Linked DNA regions of Homo sapiens. The protein of the gene in region 1 purifies or fractionates together with the protein of each later gene. This does not show direct contact. Each region holds a gene or a part of one and is shown on either strand. Other genes may lie near its edges.

Evidence for each region. Proteins that work in one complex are often made in the same cells at the same time.
Region 2: the proteins of SLC22A23 (region 1) and TAX1BP1 purify together in Homo sapiens (affinity purification with mass spectrometry; 2 studies listed by BioGRID and IntAct, with this or other methods). This does not show direct contact.
Region 3: the proteins of SLC22A23 (region 1) and ABCB10 purify together in Homo sapiens (affinity purification with mass spectrometry; one large-scale study listed by BioGRID and IntAct). This does not show direct contact.
Region 4: the proteins of SLC22A23 (region 1) and SQLE purify together in Homo sapiens (affinity purification with mass spectrometry; one large-scale study listed by BioGRID and IntAct). This does not show direct contact.

The regions. Positions count from the first base shown.
Region 1 is NC_000006.12:3,447,051-3,450,550, reverse strand, and holds part of SLC22A23 (solute carrier family 22 member 23), read left to right. Parts: intron 1-3,500.
Region 2 is NC_000007.14:27,792,162-27,795,661, reverse strand, and holds part of TAX1BP1 (tax1-binding protein 1), read right to left. Parts: coding exon 3,432-3,500; intron 2,597-3,431; coding exon 2,450-2,596; intron 1,340-2,449; coding exon 1,216-1,339; intron 1-1,215.
Region 3 is NC_000001.11:229,541,708-229,545,207, reverse strand, and holds part of ABCB10 (ATP-binding cassette sub-family B member 10, mitochondrial), read left to right. Parts: intron 1-2,836; coding exon 2,837-2,971; intron 2,972-3,500.
Region 4 is NC_000008.11:125,005,005-125,008,504, forward strand, and holds part of SQLE (squalene monooxygenase), read left to right. Parts: intron 1-520; coding exon 521-701; intron 702-2,386; coding exon 2,387-2,483; intron 2,484-3,500. UniProt on the Homo sapiens protein: Catalyzes the stereospecific oxidation of squalene to (S)-2,3-epoxysqualene, and is considered to be a rate-limiting enzyme in steroid biosynthesis.

The DNA.
Region 1 (3,500 bases):
GGCGGATCACGAGGTCAGGAGTTCCAGACCAGCCTGGCCAACATAGTGAAACCCCATCTCTACTAAAAATACAAAAATTAGCCGGGCATGGTGGTTTACGTCTGTATTCCCAGCTACTCGGGAGGCTGAGGTAGGAGAATCGCTTGAACCTGGGAGGCGGAGGTTGCGGTGAGCCGAGATCACTCCACTGCACTCCAGCCTGAGCAACAGAGCGAGACTCCGTCTCAAAAAAAAATAATAAAATACTGAACTGACTACCATGAGGTCATCCCAGTGGTGGCTTTTGTCTAGTATATGCAACAACAGTGGATATCTTCATGCATATCTATTTTTAAAAATTGACTATAGTAGGTAATACATGTACATTGTACAGAAAGCATAGCATAAAAGTAACATTTCTTTCTGTCTCTGCCCCCAGTTTCCCTCTTCAGAAGCAACCATGGTTACCAGTTTCTCACATCCCCTTCCAGAAATGTTCTACTTTCATTTACATATTTTGTCTCAGAAACACTAGCGTATCCGAAACACTGTTTTTTCACTTATGCTGGAGATGAATACATCAGTACATAGAGATACTCATTCTTTTTTATGTCTGCATAGTATTCCATTGTCAGACTGGACTGCCATTTATTTAACTAATCACTTACCGAGGAAGCATTAAGTTTGTCTCCAGTCTTTGCTGTTATATTCACAATATATCACGAAATCTTGGCATGCACAGACATTTGCACACGTGTAAGAAATTTTTAGAAGTGGGAGGGTGAAAGTAGGCTGCATTTTTATGTTAATACTGTCAGAGTGTTTTCTGTAGAAATCTTAGCTATGCACAATTATACTAATAATATGTGTGGTTCTGTTCCCTACACCCTCCCTGACCCAGGGGATTATCAAATCTTTACATATTTTCTAGTTTGATGTGCAAAAAATTGTATTTGGTGGTGGTTGTGACTTGCATTTCTCTTGTTATGAAGGAAGTTAAACATCTTTTTGAAAGTTTTTGAGCCATCCATATTTCCTGTTCTTTGAACAGTCTCTTCATTTCCTTTGCCTTTATGTGTGTGTATATGCTGTGAGAAGCATTATTTTCTTATGTATTTATAGGTACACTTTATGTATGATGTAAATTAACCCTTCTGGATGACTTGTAACCATTTTCCTCGAGTTTGCTGTTTGGTTTTTTAAATTTTGTACATGATATTTTTGTTATGTAGAAACGTATGGTTTGGTTAGAGTTGTATGAATTAATCTTCTTTTTTATGATTTCTTATGTTAGCTTTAAGGCTTGGAAGATTCCTGGAAGACTGGGGGGAAATCCTATGTTTTCTTCTAACATTTTTATGATCTTATAACTTCTTTATTTTGGGGTTGGAGATACCTGTTTTGCTTTTCTGAGCTATTAGGATAAATTGCTAGAAAGGTCAGAGGATATAACCAGCATTTCATGCAGACGTTGACTTGCTTGTAACAACGTCCTAAACATTTAGTTTGGCAGTGGCCCTTATTAATGTAAGGATTAGAGGCTAGCCAGCTGTTAAGCAGCCTTTCCACCTCCGTTTGGGAGATAGCTGTCTTCCCAGGTCACAGGTCTCCCTTTCCTTCTTCATCTTCCTGTTCTGAACCATCTGCAGATCTCTCCCTCTCCCTCTCCGTCTCCCTCTGCCTCTCTGTAGCAACATTTTCTGCAGGTGCCTTTACTTTGGCCTTTAGTCCAAGATAGGATTGAGTCGAAAGTTGGTGTCATTTAAAAACATGGTGGGGGCTGGGCGCGGTTGCTCACGCCTGTAATCCCAGCACTTTGGGAGGCCGAGGTGGGCGGATCACGAGGTCAGGAGTTCAAGACCATCCTGGCCAACGTGGTGAAACCCCGTCTCTACTAAACATACAAAAAAATTAGGAGGGCGTGGTGGCGGGCGCCTGTAGTCCCAGCTACTCGGGAGGCTGAGGCAGGAGAATGGCGTGAACTCGGGAGGCGGAGCTTGCAGTGAGCGGAGATCACAACACTGCACTAACTGTCTGGGGGACAGAGCCAGGCTCCGTCTCAAAAAACAAAAAACAAAAAACAAAAAAACATGGTGGACTTTCTGAATCTTTGTCCTGAGGTTGCCACAAACTGGTGGTGTGTGGGAGCCAGCTTGGCTTCTATTGACTCTGAGCCTGCTGCACGTGTCTATCCAACTTCACATTCAGTAATGTCATGCTGGCAGCTTGAAATTCACCATGGTGGGAGCATTTACACCATAGGAATTGGCAAACAGTGGAGATCAGGGTTTTTTTTCTTCATAGAGCCGGTTGTTAAACATTTATCACACTAATGAGTGTGACCCTGGACCACTTGAAAAAATTTTTTTGGCCGGGCGCGGTGGCTCACGCCTGTAATCCCAGCACTTCGGGAGGCCGAGGGAGGTGGATCACCTGAGGTCAGGAGTTCAAGACCAGCCTGACCGACATGGTGAAACCCCGCCTCTACTAAATATACAAAAATTAGCTGGGCATGGTGGTGGGTGCCTGTAATCCCAGCTACTCAGGAGGCTGAGGCAGGAGAATCGCTTGAACCCAGGAGGCAGAGGTTGCAGTGAGCCAAGATTGCGCCATTGCACTCCAGTCTGGGCAACAGAGTGAGACTCCATCTATCTCAAAAAAAAAAAAAAAAAAAGAGAGAGAGAGGCCAGGCATGGTAGCTCATGCCTGTAATCCCAGCACTTTGGGAGGCCGAGGTGGGTGGATCATGAGGTCAGGAGATGGAGACCATACTGACTAACACAGTGAAACCCCATCTCTACTAAAAATACAAATAATTATCCAGGTGTGGTGGCGGGCACCTGTAGTCCCAGCTACTTGGGAGGCTGAGGCAGGAGAATGGCGTGAACCCGGGAGGCGGAGCTTGCAGTGAGCCGAGATTGCACCACTGCACTCCAGCCTGGGCAACAGAGCAAGACTCTGTCTCAGACAAAAAAAAAAAAAAAAAAAGAAAGTTTCTTTCCTCTCTCCTCCTTTTCACAGATTTGAGTGCCTGTTCTGAGCTGAGCATTGTGCTATGTGTTGGGGATACAATGATATGTGAAAGTAGACAGCTCAGCTTCCATAGAGCTTAGAGACTTCTGGGGAAGGCACACCCAAACTGATCAAGTAATAATCTTTTCATTACAAAGTGAGTTAAGCGTGTAGAAAGAAAGGGAATTGAGAGACTAGAACAACAACAACAAAACCCTGACCTAGACAGACTGGTCTATGTAAGAAAGTGACATCTGAGATGAGAGCTGAGGTTTGAGTAGGAGGTAGAGAGAGAGGCAAAAGAGGAGAGATGTGTGTGTTTTCCAGAGACAGCAAATGGCACTTGCAAAGGCCCTGTGGTGTGTAGGGCCTGGAATTGATAGCAATTGATATGGGAATGGGGGGTGGCGATGGCTTATAAACCGTGCTAAGAACTTTTCCTCTAATTTTAGAGCAAAGGAAAACCATTAAAGAGTATTAAGTGGGATAAGGGATATGATGCAGTCAGA
Region 2 (3,500 bases), on another chromosome or scaffold:
AGAATTGCTTGAACCCAGAAGGCAGAGGCTGCAGGGAGCTGAGATCACGCCACTGCACTCCAGCCTGGGGGACAGAGTGAGACTCTGTCTCAAAAACAAAACAAAACAAAATTTGCTAAAAAGAGTTCCATAACAGCACAAAAATTGTTCTCCTTATATAACTGAATAGACAGGGTAAGTAGGAAAACCATACTCTGAGAATTCTCTTTCCCCTCTCTGAAAGCCAGGGTCTCACTATGTTGCCCAGGCTAGCCTCAAACTCTTGAGCTCAAGTGATCCTCTTGCCACAGCTTCCAGAGTAGCTAGGAGTACAAGCGCATGCCACCATACCCCACCAAGAACACATTTTAAATCATTCTTCTAGCCCTTCATTACCACTAAGTCTTTATTAAGTAAATACCCTATAACACCATTTTAGGTACTACAGAGGATACATGGAAACAGAAGGCTCAATTCTGTCCTACAGGGGATAAACCTAATATTTAATAGTCTAAGATGTTTACATTTAAAAAGACTTAAAAGATCAATTACTACACACACTAAACAAGAAAATATACTTTCTCTAGTATTTAACGTCATTACTGTCAAATTTACATAAAAGTGAAAAAATCAGGACAGATGAAAACCTAGTTAATCCAAGTTTTCATGTTATTAATGTTCTCACTATGTCTCTCTATTCTGTTCTATAAGTTAATAAACTAATAAAAACTTAACTCATCAGCCAACAGGTACATTGACAAGGGAAGAAGTACCCCCATTGATCCAAAGCAGCCAAAAATAAATGAATAAATAGAAAAATATGAGAATAATAGGGGATTTTTTCCCCTGCAGAATTTAAAAATTAAAATCCACAAATAAAATGCTTCAAAATTCCATAGATTTAATGGAACATAAAGTAAAAATTCAATTCGTGGCTTTTGTCCTATGTAGCCCAAATGAGTACTCACAAGCACCAGCTCATTTTTAACATGTGTGAATAGTCTCAAGAAGATAACTACTAGTTTACATTCACATTTTATATGTTCATGTTGTGTATATTCACCACTTGCATGACTCTATTTTACATTTATACCCTTATTTTCTTGTTGCCTCAATTCCTTCACTTATCACATGAAAATTTTTATGAACATCCTGAAATTCTAACACATGGAAGAAGGCAGTATAAGTACTTTTCAATGTAGGACACCCTACACAAAAAGTCTAAAAGATTTTTACCTGCAGAAGGTGATGGCTTTACATCTACAGTAGAGGCAGAAGTGGCTGGGTCTGTGTTTACTGAAGCATCATTCACTTTCTGCTGATTCCCCGTTTTCTTTGTGAAGACATTATTATTATTAGCCTATTCAAAATGTTAATAAGTTGTTAAATGAGTCAATGAATTAGTTATATTTCCTCCTTGCAGTAACTAAGTAAATAATATTTTTACATATTACTTTAGGAAATCCTAAGAAGTCCACAAAGCTGCTCTTGTTTTAAAAGCCAACAAAGACTAAAGTTATACACATCATTTTGCTAACTGACCTAAATGTTGCAAAAGAAATATACTATATTTTGCTTTTTCTTATAAACTCATCAAAAGACCACCAAAATAAGTCATTCACAGAAATCTACTACAAAGTTATAACGTACTCAAAAGGCCCCAGGCCAAATTCATACATGTGAGTGAGTCATACTTAAAGTATCATATTTTTTCACAAAAGCCTTCCTACTTTACTACATGCATTCCTTGCTTGTCTCCTCTGATTTAAAAAAGTAGGACCAGGAAAGTATCATATGCATCACATAGTAAAAGAGAGCTATAGTACCACTTTCAATTTCAGGTTTTAAATATGTTTCTTCTACATTTCCAGGAGTTCCTCAGATAGTAAGCCTTGTATTTAAGCACAGTTTAAGGACCCACATTGAAACATACATACCTCAAAACAAAAACATCTTCTTTGGTATATTACAAATCTACCTACCTATTCTCAAATGGAATAAAAAAGAATTAGCTAACACTCTTTAACTGTTCCTAATCTAATAGGAATAGGAATCTTCATAATATGAGTATGAAGAACTTGCCAATTACAACTGAGACACCATCTAAGACCTAGGGATGATTAATGGTGAACTCCAATGAGGATAGATGTCATGGTCACAAGAGTCAATAATAAGTATTGAGTTTTGAGTGACAGATATTTATCAAGAACTTAAGAGGGAAATTATCTAGAAAAGAAGACTTTTTTCTGTTTTTTCCTTGCTACTGCCCTTGCTTCCTTTGTTGGCTGTCCAGTAAATTAAAATTCCAGACTTTTTTAAAGAAGAGTTATTACAATATTTGGCCAATGACTTGAAATCAAGCAGAGATAAATAATATTTAAAAGGTTGATATTTGGAATATTACAAATTTGATTTTCGAACAAAAATACTAACAACACATTTTACTATGTGTAAATTTAATGATACTTACTGATTGATCTGAAAGTTTGTTTATTTGTTTTTGGAGCCTTTGGCATTCCTTAAATTTTTCTTTATAATGGTCTGCAGCCATCTGAAGACGGAGTTTCAGATCTTCAACTTCTCTTCTTAGTTCGTGTTCCAGTGTATCAGTCTTGTCCTAGAAAGAAACAAACATTTGAAGAAAAAAATAAAAATCTGATACCTCCTAATGTTAATAGTAACCCCAACTTCAATCTTACTTTTTTTCTTTTTTTTGTTTTTGAGACAGAGTCTTGCTCTGTCACCCAGGCTGAAACACAGTGGCCCAATTATGGCTCACTGCAGCCTTGACCTCCTGGCTCAAGCAATCCTCTTGTCTCAGCCTTTGGACTAGCTGGGACTACAGCTGCACACCACCACACCTGGGTAATTTTTGAAAATTTTTGTAGAGATGAGGTCTCACTATGTTGCCCGGGCTGGTCTTGAATTCCTGGGATCAAGCGATCTTCCCACCTCAGCCCCCCAAAGTGCTGAGGTTATAGGTGTGAGCAACTGTCCCCGGCCACTTTTTTATTTTGGGATTTTGGCTACAGAGCAACATAGGGTCTCTTGTTAAGTCCAGTTTTACATTCTTAGGACTAAGGTTCATTTAAAAAACTAGAGAAAAATAATCCACCTCCTGAAGAGCAATTATTACTCCCTTAAACAACCATAATACTGTTTTATACAGCTAGTAAGAAATTCCAAACAAAACAATACATATCTGACATCAATATATTTAATCAATAGGGCAGCTTTCACCAACCATTAAGAATTCTGCTTACAGAAGTTTTCCTTACAGCACACATTAACTGTAAGCCAAGAAGTCACAATGACTAAACAAAAGGAATGAAAATTTTAAATTTAAAATAAGGCAGAAATCTGACCTGTCTTATCTTAACACAATTTACTACTTTGTGAGATTATAGTGGTTTCTTAAATCAAAATGCAAATTCAAAATTAACTTGTTTTACCTGATCTTTTTTCATAGCATTTAGTTTAAGTTCTGCCACTGCATCAGCTAACTGCTTTTTCACTTTCTC
Region 3 (3,500 bases), on another chromosome or scaffold:
GGGGATCAGGAAGAGTTCAAGCTGGGAAAAATCACTTGGGGTACTTTTTGTAACAAGGAAAGGGAATTCAGTGTAGGTCAGATGAGCAATTCAAAGGGGTCTGTTTGGGATGCCATAATAATACCACAGACTGGGTGGCTGAAACAACAGAAATGTATTTCTCACAATTCTGGAGGTTAGAAGTCCAGGGTCAAGGTGCTAGCAAAATAGTTTCATTCTGAGGCCTTTTCTTGTGGCTTGGCTGAAACAACAGAAATGTATTTCTCACAATTCTGGAGGTTAGAAGTCCAGGGTCAAGGTGCTAGCAAAATAGCTTCATTCTGAGGCCTTTTCTCTTGGCTGGTAGGCAGCTGCCATCTTGCCATGTGCTCACATAGTGGAGAGAGAGTGTGCTCTAGTGTCTCTTATAAGGACACTAATCCTATTGGATCATGGCCCCACACTTAACGACCTCATTTAACCTTAGTTACTTTCTTAGAGGCCCCATCTCCAAATACAGCCATGGTGGGGATTAAGGCTTCAACATGTGAATTTCAGGGGGAATTTCCATTCAGTCTGTAAAAGGGCCTCAGGAAGTGGCTTCACCTAGGATCTGATCTTTGGCTCTAGGGGATCAGAAATGTGACTTTGTTTCTCCTGCACAAACTCATGGACCTGACATAGGGGAAGTCCAGTTATGAGAACCTGATATTGTGTATGGCATACTGCCAATTTATTAATTTACATAGTGGGCCTACCCACCATTAAGTTGTGTTTCTGCTATTCCTTTTTTTTTTTTTTTTTTTTTTTTTGAGAGAAGGTCTCACCCTGTTGCCTAGGCTGTAGTGCAGTGGTGTCATCTTGGCTCACTGCAACCTCTGCCTCCCGAGCTCGAGTGATCCTCCCACGTCAGCCTCCTGAGTAGCTGGAACCACAGGCGTGCGCCACCATGCCCGGCTAATTTTTGTATTTTTTATAGAGACAGTGTCTCACCATGTTGCCCAGCCCACTGGTTTTGAACTCCTGGGCTCAAGCGATCCGCCTGCCTCAGCCTCCCGAAATGCTAGGATTACAGACGTGAGCCACTATGCCTAGCCCATTTCTGCTATTCAAAACACTTCATTATGGTGCCAGCACCCTGTATTAGTCATCAGAAGGTTTTTCATTAAGTGTGGAACCAGAGTGAAGGGAGGGGGGTGGTTCTGGACAGTTCTAGGAGAATCTTGATGGACTGTGCCTGCCCTACACAGAGGACACCTGTCCAGTTGGTTCATTTTGACATCAGTTGTGTTCAGGCCCCAGAAGTGTTAGACCTGCCCTGTTGGTCTCATGTCCTGATGGTGACCATCAGAGATATGATTATGTTCCCCAAGACTCACCCCAGGTGTCCTGATGGACTTGTCTTCTCAGGGTGGGACATTCCTATGCACATCTGCTTGCTCCTCTGTGAAGGTGCCAACCTCCTTTCTGCCTCAGGGCCTTTATGCAATGGCTCTTCCCTCTTGGGGGAGAGGTCTTCCAAGATTGTGTTACATCTGCAGTGATACTTTCTCTTTCTTTTACTTGTTTATTATCTAAGTCTCACCTCTTCTTTCTTGCATGAAAACTCTGTGAGGGTTGGTTATCTCCCAGGTGCCTGGAATAGTGCTTGCACTCAGTAACGTGGGCTCTCAGTAATAACTTGTTGAATGAGTAAATGAATGAGTGAATGATTGGTTGATCCATCCACTTATGTTTCAGTTTGCAGTTTTTCCTTAGTATTATTTAGCCGTGTACTGATTATACTATTTTCTGTGCAAATGAGATATGGTAGATTTTAGTAATTTGTCGAAGAGATGCCAGTACTATTGAAAGTACAATCACCAAATTGCAATGTTGACAGGAAAACCCTCTGTTACTTACTTCCAGAAGTTAGGTTATTCTTTCAGCAATTCCAATTGCTAGAAGCTCCTCAGTATATTGAGCCCAGATCCATCCTGCTGACTTCAGTCCACTGAGCCATAAAAGCAGCTCTAATTCTTCTTCGACTTGTTAGTTGTGTCCTCCAAGTCCTCTGTTGACTGTTATGCAATGTGCTGTTTTTTTTTTTTTTTTTTTTGAGATGGAGTTTTGCTCTTGTTGCCCAGGCGGAGTGCAGTGGCTCAATCTTGGCTCACTGCAACCTCCACCTCCCGGGTTCAAGCGATTCTCCTTCCTCAGCCTCCCGAGTAGCTGGGATTACAGGCACGTGCCCCAACACCCAGCTAATTTTTGTATTTTTAGTAGAGATGGGGTTTCACCACGTTGGTCAGGCTGGTCTCGAACTCCTGACCTCAGGTGATCTGCCCGCCTCGGCCTCCCAAAGTACTGAGATTACAGGCGTGAGCCACCACACCCCACCCGATAATGGGGTTTTTTGGTGACTTCACCATCTTGGTCATTTTGATGGGACGTGTTGCTGTGGTTGTTCAGTGCCTGCAGGTGGTTCAGACCTGAATATACAACTCCTGAGGTGGACTGGAGCGTGGAGCAGAATGGGCCTCTGCCAAACCCCCATCCTGTCTCTTCCCACTCTGTTGTTAAACCGCGTGGTCTGATCTAGTATTGGCCTGAGGATTCTTTCTTCAGCAATTTCTTGTCACATTTCTTCTATGTGGCATGCTGAATATTTATGGGGTTTTGTGAAGAATAAAGATGTCTGAAAAATTCCATCAAAACAGGATGTAACAACTTGGGGACAGTACCTTCAAGCCTGCTGTTAATTTAAACACACACACACACAGACACACCCACACACACACTCCCCTTTCGTAGGTAATGAGAATGTCTTGCCACCCAATGTAACAAACACCTCTGAATTTTTTTTTGTTTTTGACAGTTTTTTGTCTCACCTAATCTGGCCACCTTTGTTTTGAGCGTGGTGCCTCCAGTGTCAATCATTGCTGTAATTTATGGGCGATATCTACGGAAACTGACCAAAGTCACTCAGGATTCCCTGGCACAAGCCACTCAGGTAAAGGCCCCTTCCTGTCCGCGTGGTTTCCAGCAGAATGGGGTCATAGCCAGGATCCTAGAGGGCAGATCCTAAGGGATGTACTTAGGTTTTTCAATGAAGTGCCTGCCTTTCCTTTCATTAGAAATTACCCCAAGATCCATGAAACTTAAACTACTCTGTTTTCTAGACTAGATTTCTACCCATATCTCAAAGTAGATCTAACTTCACTAAACATTTTATGGAGTCCTCACTTGTTACTATCACTATTTCTTTTCTTTCTTTTTTTTTTTGTTTTTTTTTTTTGAGACAAGGTACATGAGAAAAGTTTTTTCATGCACTCTAGGCTGGAGCGCAGTGGTACAATCACAGCTTAGTGAAGCTTTAACCTCCCAGGCTCGAGTGATCTCCCACCTCAGCCTCCTTAGTAGCTGGGACTATCGCCCCATGCCACCATGCCCACTAATTTTTAAAATTTTTTGTAGAGACATGATCTTACTGTGTTGCCCAGGCTGGTTTCAAATTCCTGGGCTCAAGTAATCCTCCCACC
Region 4 (3,500 bases), on another chromosome or scaffold:
AATCATCAACAGTTGGGGGATAACTCTACCCTTTCCATTTGGTTTGGAAAATCTACTTTTTCATATATTCAGTCATTATATATAAATTGGGGTTTTTTTTTGAGTTTCCATACTGGTTTTATTTTATTTTTATTTCTTTTTGGTGACAAATCTACATATTCATACATTGAAAGAAGTGTTAAGAAGGACTAAATGTGTTCCTATGTCTTTATGGCAGAACAGGTTTACTCAGGAGAGGATTATGGTTTATTTCATGTTGCATTTTCTTTCTGAAGTTGAAGTGGAATTACAGACCTGAAATAGTTATGTTGTTATCTTTAAATGATATTACAGATTTGCTAAGACTCTCATTGACTTCCAGAAGCATTCACAGTTTCTGAAATAGTTACATTAGTTTTGTTCAGTTCTCCAGATTTGAAGGCAGAGACTCATTTTTGATGTGTGTGTGTCTTCTTTGGTTCTTAGTTTAACGCTGGGTGTGTTAACAGAATTGATTGTTTTGAACTCGATTGCTTTGCAGATACAGTGGAAGGTCTTGATGCCCAGGTTGTAAATGGTTACATGATTCATGATCAGGAAAGCAAATCAGAGGTTCAGATTCCTTACCCTCTGTCAGAAAACAATCAAGTGCAGAGTGGAAGAGCTTTCCATCACGGAAGATTCATCATGAGTCTCCGGAAAGCAGCTATGGCAGAGCCCAAGTAAGACCACAGTTTCAAATATATAATTACTAAAGAATCAATGCATTTAAATTTGACCTTTGTACAAATAAGATTTTATAAATTTTAATGAATTTTTGGGGCATAGTCTAGAACATATGTATATTAAAATAAACTGTCAGTCAAAAGAGTGTTAGATATTCAGTGCTTTTGTTAAGAATATCATATAGAGAATTTTCCTTTGACATGGAACTATGAAGAGTTCTCCTTTGACTAAATGAAAATTACATAATTTTTATGTGACGGGAATTTAGAGGATATATTTGTAACTAAGGCATAAGTCCATTTGTGCACATTTTGGAGTTTGAGTTTGTGGTTACGATACTTTCTATTAGAAGTCAGGATACAAAACTGCAAGGAGAAATCCCTGTTTCATTCTCACTAAAGACCCAGTCTGTTAGGACTGGCTTCTTCTCTTGTTTATTAACTTATATTTACCAGTAACCTTTAAAACACTAATTGAAGAAGTTTTAAGCGTGAGAACCCTCATGTGACTGACACAGACTAAAGTATTGACAAAGCAAGTGAAGAAGCAAGTGGACTTAATCCTTTGGACTAAAAAGACTTGATATCCATGGAAGAAGAGTATGTTCACTGTATGAAAATGGAAAAATCGGCCAGGTGCGGTGGCTCATGCCTGTAATCCCAGCACTTTGGGAGGCTGAGGTGGGCAGATCACGAGGTCAGGAGTTCAAAACCAGCCTGGCCAATATGGTGAAACCCCGTCTCTACTAAAAATAAGAAAAAATTAGCCAGGCGTGGTAGCACGCACCTGCAGTCCCAGCTACTTGGGAGGCTAAGGCAGGAGAATTGCTTGAACCCAGGAGGTGGAGGTTGCAGTGAGCCGAGATAGCGCCACTGCACTCCAGCCTGGGCGACAGAGCGAGACTTGGTCTCAAAAAAAAAAAAAAAGAAAATGGAAAAATAGTCCCAAATATAAAGATTATAAAAATTACCTGTGATCTTTCTGACTAGAAATAATTACTCTTTCTTTTTTTTGAGACTGAGTCTCGCTCTGTCACCCGGGCTGGAGGGCAGTGTTGCAATCTCGGCTCACTGCAACCTCTGCCTCCCGAGTTCAAGCAATTCTCCTGCCTCAGCCTCCCGAGTAGCTGGGATTACAGGCACATGCCACCACGCCTGGCAAATTTTTGTATTTTTAGTAGAGACGGGGTTTCACCATGTTGGCCAGGATGGCCTTGATCTCCTGACCTTGTGATCCGCCCACCTTGGCCTCCCAAAGTTCTGGGATTACAGGTGTGAGCCACCGTGCCCTGCCAGAAATAATTACTCTTAACAGTTTGCAGGATGCATTCCAATACTTGTTTTCCCCTCTGTGTATGAATGTATGAGGGTATGTAAAGTTTCTCTGCCTATATTTTATTTTTTAACAAATTAATTTATTTTTAACAAATTAAGATGAAAATCCAATGTTACTTTTTAAAATATTTTTAAAATATTTAATGATTACTAATGATTACTAATGTAATCATTAGTAATATGTATTAAATGTTGATAAATTAGAAAATAAAAAACACACATTGGACACGTGTTTGCACACACATGCATGTCCAGTTTATATGGATAAACTGGAGATAAGGAATTTATATTTAATTTAAATTGCTGAAATGTGCTGCTTTAGAAATGTATTTTTTTTTATTCTTTAGTGCAAAGTTTATTGAAGGTGTTGTGTTACAGTTATTAGAGGAAGATGATGTTGTGATGGGAGTTCAGTACAAGGATAAAGAGACTGGAGATATCAAGGTGAGAAATACCAAATGTCACCTCTTCCTAAGAGATGTTGTTTTTCCTGCTTTTTCACTTACCCCTTTAAAAAAGTAGGCTTACCGGTTTACATGTTGAGTATCTCTTATCTGAAATGCTAGGGATCAGAAGTGTTTCAGATTTTTTATTTTTTTCAGATGTTTGCATTATACTTACCAGTTGAGCATCTCTAATCTGAAAATCTGAAATTTGAAATGATCTAATGAGTATTTTGTTTGTCACATTACTGCTCAAAAAGTTTTGGATTTCAGATTTTTGGATTAGAGATACTCAGCCTGTGTTATTTATCAAATGAACTGAGTTCTTTCTAAGCCATATGCAACAGGATGGGTTTCAGATTGCAACACATTGTTCTTTAGAGGACTTCAGAATGCTATGCAAAAAACATTTTAAACAGAACTAATGTGAATAGTTTTTGAAACAGTAATATACATCAGCAGAGAAGCAGAGGGGAACTAGCAGGGGAAAGAAGGCAAGATTCAACATAAAAGAAATGATTCAGATAAAATGAGCAATTTAACTCAGGTAATAGTAAGAGAATCTTTTTAAAAACAATTTATCCTTTTATTTTATTTTATTTTATTTTGTTTTATTTTTTGAGACGGAGTTTCACTCTTGTTGCCCAGGCTGGAGTGCAATGGTGCGATCTCGGCTCACTGCAACCTCCACCTCCCAGGTTCAAGCGATTCTCCTGCCTCAGCCTCCTGAGTAGCTGGGATTACAGGCATGCTTCACCGCATCCGGCTAATTTTGTATTTTTAATAGAGACGGGGTTTCTCCATGTTGGTCAGGCTGCTCTTGAACTTCCAGCCTCAGGTGATCTGCCCACCTCAGCCTCCCAAAGTGCTGGGATTACAGGCGTGAGCCACCGCACCCGGCCAATTTTTCCTTTTTTTAAAAAAAAATTATCGTAGTAAAAAACATGTAATTCTGGACTGCTCCCCATAGGGTTACCACCTCTTAGAAATTGTCCTCTAATGAAGGTGACTGGAATGT